Linked DNA regions of Homo sapiens: region 1 is linked to region 2. The links come from fine-mapping of genetic effects on gene expression. Tissue or cell type: whole blood. Region 2 holds a variant in brackets; the other region holds the start of a gene. All regions are shown on one strand. Distances are from middle to middle.

What was found. PIP is the estimated chance that this variant, and not a neighbour inherited with it, causes the effect.
Region 1: LGALS1 starts here. The variant in region 2 is fine-mapped to the expression of LGALS1 in whole blood (TOPMed, PIP 0.96).

What each region holds. Positions count from the first base shown.
Region 1 is chr22:37,673,380-37,677,537 of GRCh38, reverse strand. LGALS1 (galectin 1) reads right to left here and starts at 1,902. Exons shown (of 4, transcript NM_002305.4): 1 at 1,827-1,902; 2 at 473-552. The coding sequence starts at 1,835. RefSeq lists an enhancer at 1-86 and silencers at 1-439, 1,960-2,099.
Region 2 is chr22:37,583,682-37,587,839 of GRCh38, reverse strand. No RefSeq gene overlaps it. Among named protein-coding and RNA genes, the nearest start is that of LGALS2, 5.7 kb to the right of the region's middle. The variant G/A (reference allele first, on the strand shown) is at 2,321.

The DNA.
Region 1 (4,158 bases), 90 kb before region 2:
GTCCAAGGTCACCTAACTGCCGAGAAAATAAGGCAGCCGTCTGAGTGAATGAGAAGTGAAGGAAGAAGGACCGGACTGAGCCAGTGAATGAATGAATGACCAGACGCAGGAAGGAGGGACTCAGGGGGAAGGCGGCGGTGACGCCCGCCCCACTCCTCTCCCCGCCCTCCCCAGCGACAGGTCCCGCCCAGACCGGAAAGGGGTGGGGGCGGGGGAGTCAAGGTATTACAGATGACGAGGCTGCAGCTGGTTTAGTTTAAGAGGCTACAGCAGGGAGGGAGCGGGGGAGGGGGCGGCAACGGTGGGGGCGCCCAGACCCTGCGGGGGAAGTGAGTCACCCAGAAAACGCAGCATCGGCGGCTGGCCGTTAACCCGCTCCCGGCCAGGGAGGAGATGTGGGCTTGGCCGGCCACGCCCTCCCTGCTGGACCAAGCCCGTCCCTGCCGCCCACCACCCCGACTTCACTTCTCACCTCTTAGCGTCAGGAGCCACCTCGCCTCGCACTCGAAGGCACTCTCCAGGTTTGAGATTCAGGTTGCTGGCGACCAGACCCTGCACAGACAAGCCCCGGCCCAGCCGGGTTAGAGGACAAGGCCTCCACTGCTCGAAGTGTCCGGGGGTGGCTGGGGGTGGGAGTGGGGTTGTTCCCGCCCGGCATCCTCTGACCAAGCCAAGGGGAAGCCTGGGGAAAGGATTGAGCTGTAATTTCCAGCCTCCGATTGTCTATGTGGTCCTGGGAAAGTCCCTATTCCCACCGGGGTTGGCTTCAGTCTGTAACGTGAAGGTTCTAGAAGACAGGCTCTAGAAGATTTTGCAGATTGGCTTGGGAATTTTGGACTCAAGAGTGACTTGGGAGATGGGGTGCTCTGTCCCATCGCAGATGGAGAGGATCAGGCTGGGGAGGGGCCGACACTTGGCCCACCGTCACACTGAATGGAGGGGCCGGCCCCTCTGCTGGAGAGGAAGTGGCTAGGGGCGGGCGACCCCACTATTCTCCTTCAAGCCCCTCTCTGCAAAGAGGCCCAGGGGCTAGAGAGGAGACCCTGAAAAACACGGCCTCTCTGCATTAGGGAGAATAGCCCTGCAGTCGGGCTGTGGCTGGGCTGGCTCAGGGTTAACAAGATTGAGCAAACTGCTGGGCACTGCTGTTCCCTGGCACCCCGAGTGGGTGGGCAAGAGTTAACTGGTTTGAGTGGTTTCTTCTGCCAGAAACTTGAACCCTTTCCCTGGGGCCCGAGGAAGATTCTCACCTCCCTGCCACCCCAACCTCCCAGCTTGGGGGTGGTGGAAGGGAATTTCCCCCGCCCCCCCCGCCACCAGCCTGGACACAACCACCCTCCACCCCCGACCTAGAAGGGCCCATCCTGGGCAGCTTGTCTCGGGTCCTGGCAACTTTTCAGCGTTCTCTGGAGCAGAGGGTAACTCTGCCCTGGCCTGGTGACCGGGACAGCTGCAGGGGGGAGGGGACAGGAGGCTCTTTGGGGTGGAGGAGGGGGAAAGGGATAGTGGCCTGGGTGTCCCCCAGTTGGCCACACCCTTCCCACGCTCACTTCTCAGAGAGCTGCAGAATGTCAACCCTGGGCAGAAATAACTGTGCTTTCAGACCCTGGAGGAATCCAGACAATTATCAATGCAGAGAAGGCCTTGAGGGACCATGGCGCCCACCCCCATTTTACAGATGTGGCCACTGAGGTCCAGAAAAGAGAAGGCACTGGTTCCAGGCCACACAGCTGGGGCTAGAATCTGCTCCCGATCTGCCCAGCTCTCCTCTGGCCATCAGTTCCTGCCCTATCCCCTGGACCTTGGGGGGGGGTCCCCACACTCACACAAGCCATGATTGAGTCCAGGAGGATGTTCCCGGGCAGGCGCACCAGCTGTCAGAAGACTCCACCCGAGAGAGATGGGCCCCCGGACGCTCCCACCCTTTTAACTGGACCGGACCGGGTGAGCCCCGCCCCCTGAAAGTTCAGCCAATTGCAAGTCAGGATAGGGCTGGGGGCCACTGGGGGCGGAGTCCGTGGAATTTTGAAGCCAGTTTTGGAGCAGAGGTGACCAATCAGAGTGGCGAGCTGCTGCCCCCCCTCACCCCGCCGCCCCCGGCCAGAGTCCAAGCTCCACCTCCTATTCTCCTTCATCCCTCTCCACCTCCCCACCAAAATTGTGCTGTGGCAGAGATTGGGGGAAGCCAGTGGAAAATAGTTTGATGATGAGCTAGGCCCACAAGTTGGCGGGAAGGGGCCTGTGGCCAGCAGGCTGGGCTCAGGGGGTGCCCAGAGAAGATGGCTGAGGAGGTGCAGGGTCCTTCAGGGAATCAGAGCTGGGGGAGACCAGGCCACTCCCGGGCAGGGACCAGGGCGTGGCTCCTGCTGCGTGCGCGTCTGCAGAGGGCCACTGACTTAACCACAGGCCCTGGCCCCACCCGGGCCTTCCCCGGAAGCAAGGACTGCGGCTGCTGCAGCGCTCTCTCGCTGGCTCCTCGGGAAGGCTAAAGAAAGGCTGGGCCGGGCGCCAAGCCTGAGGCTGCAGGGCTTGGCTAAGGCCTCGGGCTTGGCCGCGTTCAGGGGCAGGCAGGGGATAGTCAAAGCGCCCTGGCCTGACAGCCTCAGGCCTGAGAGTGTCAAGCTTAGGAGATGGCCCAGGGTGGTCCAGACCAGGAGGGGGTGGGGTCCTGGCTCTGTGCACCCTGTCCTTTCTCTTTTTTATTTTTATTTATTTATATATTTATTTTTGAGATGGAGTCTCGCTCTGTCGCCCAGGCTGGAGTGCAGTGGCGTGATCTCAGCTCACTGCAACCTCTGCCTCCCAGGTTCAACTGATTCTCCTGCCTCAGCCTCCCGAGTAGCTGGGACTACAGGCCCCCACCACCACACCCGGCTAATTTATGTACTTTTAGTAGAGACGGGGTTTCACCACGTTGGCCAGGCTGGTCTCAAACTCCTGACCTCAGTTGATCCACCCGCCTCAGCCTCCCAAAGTAATGGGATTACAGGTGTGAGCCACCATGCCTGGCCACCCTGTCTGCTCTCTTAACATCTCCTCTGAGGCCCGGCACAGCCCTCCCTTCCCTGAGTGTTCAGCAGGTATTTTACTGAGCACCTACTATGTACCTGGCCCTGGGCTCTGAGGATTCAAAGCTGAACCCCTCCCAGTCCCCACTCTCAAGGAGCGCATAGTTGGGGTGGAATCTGACCACAACCACGTTAAGAAGTAGATGATGGGCTGGGCGCAGTGGCTCACGCCGGTAATCCCAGCTCTTTAGGAAGCCGAGGCGGGCGGATCACCTAAGGTTAGGAGTTCGAGACTAGCCTGACCAACACGGAGAAACCCCATCTCTACTAAAAATACAAAATTAGCTGGGCATGGTGGCATATGCCTGTAATCCCTGCTACTCCTGAGGCTGAGGCAGGAGAATCGCTTGAACCCAGGAGGCAGAGGTTGCAGTGATCCGAGATCAGTCTATTGCACTCCAGCCTGGGCAATAAGAGTGAAACTCAGTCTCAATTAAAAAAAATAAAAAATAAAAATAAAAATAAAAAGAAGTAGATGATGATGGCTGTAAGGGAAGCCATGAGAAAGTGCTATGGTGGGCTGGCGGCTGCATGAGTAAAGGAGGTGGGTCGTGAAGGGTAGGCGGAGAAGTGCCTGGCTTTCCACCATGGGCAGAAGCTCCAGAATGAGAAGGCCAGGGCTGGAGAACAGTGTTCCGGGCATGTGGGGGAAAAACGGGGATGAGGCTGGGAAGCCAACAGGACCTGGACCATGGAGGGCCTCATGGGCTGGGCACAGGGCTTGGACATTGTTGTATGGGAGGAGGCTGGGGAGCCAGGGCTAGAGGGAGGGTGAGTACTGAGGCCAGATTTGGGCTCTAGGGAAGATCACTGTGGCAGAGAATTGAGGGTGGGTGGGAGGGGTGCTCACCTTACACTCAGGAACCTGGTGGAGGAAGGGGCGTGGGGAGCACTGGGCAAAATGAGGGGCATGCTGGGGGGTTGTCACGGGGACCTCCTTCTCCACCTGGCCGTCCCCCTTCTGAAACTGCTGGCACCAAAGAGGGACGAAGATGCGGACCAGGAGTGACTCACATCTGGAAGCCAGGCCAACACACCCACCCTGCCTCTCAGGGGCACCTTCCTCCAGATGCCCAAAGCCCACTCTGGT
Region 2 (4,158 bases):
GAGATGCAGTCTCACTCTATTGCCCAGGCTGGAGTGCAATGGCCCGATCTCGGCTCACTGCAGCCTCTGCCTCCCAGGTTCAAGTGATTCTCCTGCCTCAGCCTCCCGAGTAGCTGGGATTACAGGTGCGCACCACCACGCCCAGCTAATTTTTGTATTTTTAGTAGAGACGGGGTTTCTCTGTGTTGGCCAGGCTGGTCTCGAGCTCCTGACCTCAGGTAAGCCACCCACCTCAACCTCCCAAAGTGCTGGGATTACAGGTGTGGGCCACCACGCCAGGCCTCTTTTTTCTCCTTTTTTGAGGCAGAGTTTCACTCTGTCACCCAGGCTGGAGTACAGTGGCACAATCTCGGCTCACTGCAACCTCCTGGATTCAAGCAATTCTCCTTTCTCAGCTTCCAGAGTAGCTGGGCTTACAGGTGTGTGCCACCACGCTTGGCTAATTTTTGTATTTTTAGTAGAGACAGGATTTCACCATGTTGGCCAGGCTGGTCTCGAACTCCTGAGCTCCCTCTCCCTGACTCCCCTCTCCCTCCACACCAGTTGCAAGTCTGAGCCTCTGGACTTCAAGTTGGGGATCCCACGACCCCTCTTTGGGTTCAGTTAATTTGTTAGAGTGGCTCACAGAAGTCAGGGAAACATTTGTGTGTACTGGTCTATTATAAAGGATGTTATAAAACATACAGATGAAGAGATGTTTAGGGCGGGTTATGGGGAAGAGATGCAGAGCTTCCCCTCCCACCTGGGAGCACCATCCTTCAGGACAGCCATGTGTTCAGCTATCTCAGAAGCTGCCCAAACCCAATCCCCTGGGGCCTTTTATGGGGACTTTATTATGCCGGCATGATTGACCTCTGTGTAGAACTGTGAATGGGCAAAAAGGATCTGATCTAATATTACTAGACGAAGTGTGGAACCCCCGCAAGGCCCGTCTGTTCAGATTCTTCTTGGCCTCTCTGTGCAGCATTTCTTACTCCAAGGGATGGAGCAGGACCCCTTCTGAAATGAGGGTCTTATGACAAGGTAGGTCAGGGAATTTCTTTTTTTTTTTTTTTTTTTTTTTTGAGATGGAGTTTTGCTCTTGTTGCCCAGGCTGGAGTGCAATGGTGCGATCTCGGCTCACTGCAATCTCTGCCTCCTGGGTTCCAGAAATTCTCCTGCCTCAGCTTCCCGAGCAGCTGGGATTACAAGCATGCACCACTACGCCTGGCTAATTTTATATTTTTAGTAGAGATGGGGTTTCTCCTTGTTGGTCAGGCTGGTTTCGAACTCCCAACCTCAGGTGATCCGCCTGCCTCGGCCTCCCAAAGTGCTGGGATTACAGGCGTGAGCCAACGCGCCCTGCCAGGGAATTTCTTTACGGAAGAATTTCTGTGTTTTTTTTTTTTTTTTGAGATGGAGTCTCATTCTTGTCACCCAGGCTGGAGTGCAATGGCGTGATCTTGGCTCGCTGCAGCCTCCCAGGTTCAAGCGATTCTCCTGCCTCAGCCTCCTGAGTAGCTGGGATTACAGGTGCGCATCACCGCGCCCTGCTAATTATTTTGTATTTTTAGTAAAGACAGGGTTTCGCCATGTTGGCCAGGCTGGTCTCGAACTCCTGACCTCAAGTGATTCGCCCGCCTCAACCTCCCAAAGTGCTGGGACTACAGGTGTGAGCCACTGTGCCTGGCCAGAATTTCTGTTCTAAGAAAGAAAGGCAGGGGGAGATTCCTACCTTGAGGAGAGAAAGGAGCAGGTGAAGGAAGGACAGCCAAAGGTCAGAGATTGATTCTGTTTTCTGAGGCCTGTTCCTGAGGCCTAAAGCACCCCAACATTATAACAAAAGACTAACAAATGCTGTGAGAGTTATGAGTTAGAAACCATGGGCAAAACCTATTTTATGTAATAATAGTATCACAGCACCCATCCATCCATCCGATTGTCCATCCATCCCTCTTTTGAGTTAAAACTGACATGATAAGGAGCTCAATCCAGCCAAGAGCTGAGGAAGAATTCCAGGTGGAAGGAACAGCAAGGACATAAGGCATGAGACTAGAATGAGCCTGGTGAATTCAAGGGATAGAGATGTCAGTGTGGCCAGGGGGCAGGTGGCGTGAGACGGGGCTAAGAGGTGGACCAGACCCGATCGTGTGGGGCTGGTTAGCTGAGAGGGGAGTTTGGATTTCGCTGTAAGTGCAAGGAGAAACCTGGAGGGTTTAAAGCAGGAGAGTGGAATGTTGTCATTTACATCTTACAAAGAACCAGTGGTTGGTGGAAAGACTGTGGGGGCAGGAGTGGAGAAAGGGAGAAAGCTCGGTGGCTTTGGCCCACTCCCTGCTAA[G/A]TCTCCAAATTCCTTCCTCCTTCAAGGCCCCACCCTGATTTCAGGTGAGATGGGATGACCCCAGAGCTCCAGGGGACCTGGGTGGTCCTGGAGGGACACTAGCTGGGGATGGGTGGCCAGGCATGGCCAGTGGCTGCTGTGTAGAGAGGGGCCCCGGACCCGGCCATCAAGTTAAACAGGAAGATCCCTGGGCTGGATGAGGCGAGAGCTCTGTGGAAGTCCCCTGAAGGAGGGACGGTCAGCTCATCAGAGCTGCAGGAGCAGGGGACCCCCCCTCAGGCAGCCTAAACATCCTGGAGACCTGATGGTCATATATATAATTTATTTATTTATTTTGGGTCGGAGTCTTGCTCTGTCGCCCAGGCTGGAATGCAATGGCATCATCTCGGCTCACTGCAACCTCCGCCTCCCAGTTTCAAGCAATTCTCCTGCCTCAGCCTCCTGAGTAGCTGGGATTACAGGTGTCAGCCATCGCACCCAGCCCATAGGTTAACTTTTTAAATTAAAATTAAGGCTGGGCACAGTGGCTCACACCTGTAATCCCAGCCCTGTGGGAGGCCGAGGCGGGTAGATCACGAGGTCAGGAGATCGAGACCATCCTGGCTAACACGGTGAAACCCCGTCTCTACTAAAAATACAAAAAAATTAGTCGGGCATGGTGGCGGGCACCTGTAGTCCCAGCCACTTGGGAGGCTGAGGCAGGAGAATGGCGTGAACCCGGGAGGAGGAGCTTGCAGTGAGCCAAGATCGCGCCACTGCACTCCAGCCTGGGTGACAGAGCAAGACTCTGTCTCAAAAATAAAATAAAATAAAATAAAATAAAATAAAATAAAATAAAATTTAAAAAAATTCTCACAACCACCCTGGGACGAAGGTGCTGTTAGCTCCCTTTCACAGATGCAGAAACGAGGCTTGAAGCAACCTGTCATGGCCACTTAGCTTGTAGGTGACAGAGCCGGGACTGGACATTATCTATCTGTTGCTGAAACCTCTGTGTTTCCCACACCCCACCAGTAACTGAGGGTCTTCCCAGTCCCTCTGTGTGCTGCTGGGGAGGGCTCGGCAGAGAGGGAAGCAAGAGTTAAAATGGATATTGCCGGGGTGTTGATCTGTTTGTTCTTTGGGAGGAGGACAGCAGAGGACACAGTAGGGGTCTCAGGGATGTCAGGACCAAAGTCTCCCAATAGCAGGAGCCCCGTGGGAAGCTGTGTGCACCACCAGGCTCAGCAGGCATGATGCCTCAGGCCCATGACACCAAAATGTTTTAATTTCTTTTCTTTCTTTCTTTTTTTTTTGAGATGGACTCTTGCTCTGTTGCACAGGCTGGAGTGCAGTGGCACTATCTCAGCTCACTGCAACCTCCGTCTCCTGGGTTCAAGCGATTCTTCTGTCTTAGCCTCCCGTGTACCTTGGACTCCAGGCGCACGCCACCACACCAGGCTAATTTTTGTATTTTTAGTAGAGATGGGGTTTCACCATATTGGTTGGGCTGGTCTTGAACTCCTGACCTCAGGTGATCCACCTGCCTCGGCCTCCCAAAGTGCTAGGATTACAGGCGTGAGCCACTGCGCCCAGCCTAAAATGTTTTAATTTCTTATACAATCAGAAAAAAATAAACTTTTAGGTTGAAGAGAAAATATATACATATTTTTTGAGACCAAGGTCTTACTCTGTCACCCAGACTGTAGTGCAGTGGTGTGACCATGGCCGACTGCAGCCTTGACCTCCTGGGTTCAAGCGAACCTCCCACCTCAGCCTCTCCCGTAGCTGGGACTACATTTGTGCTCCACCGTGCCAAGCTAATTTAAAAATATCTTTTGTAGCCAGGCGTGGTGTCT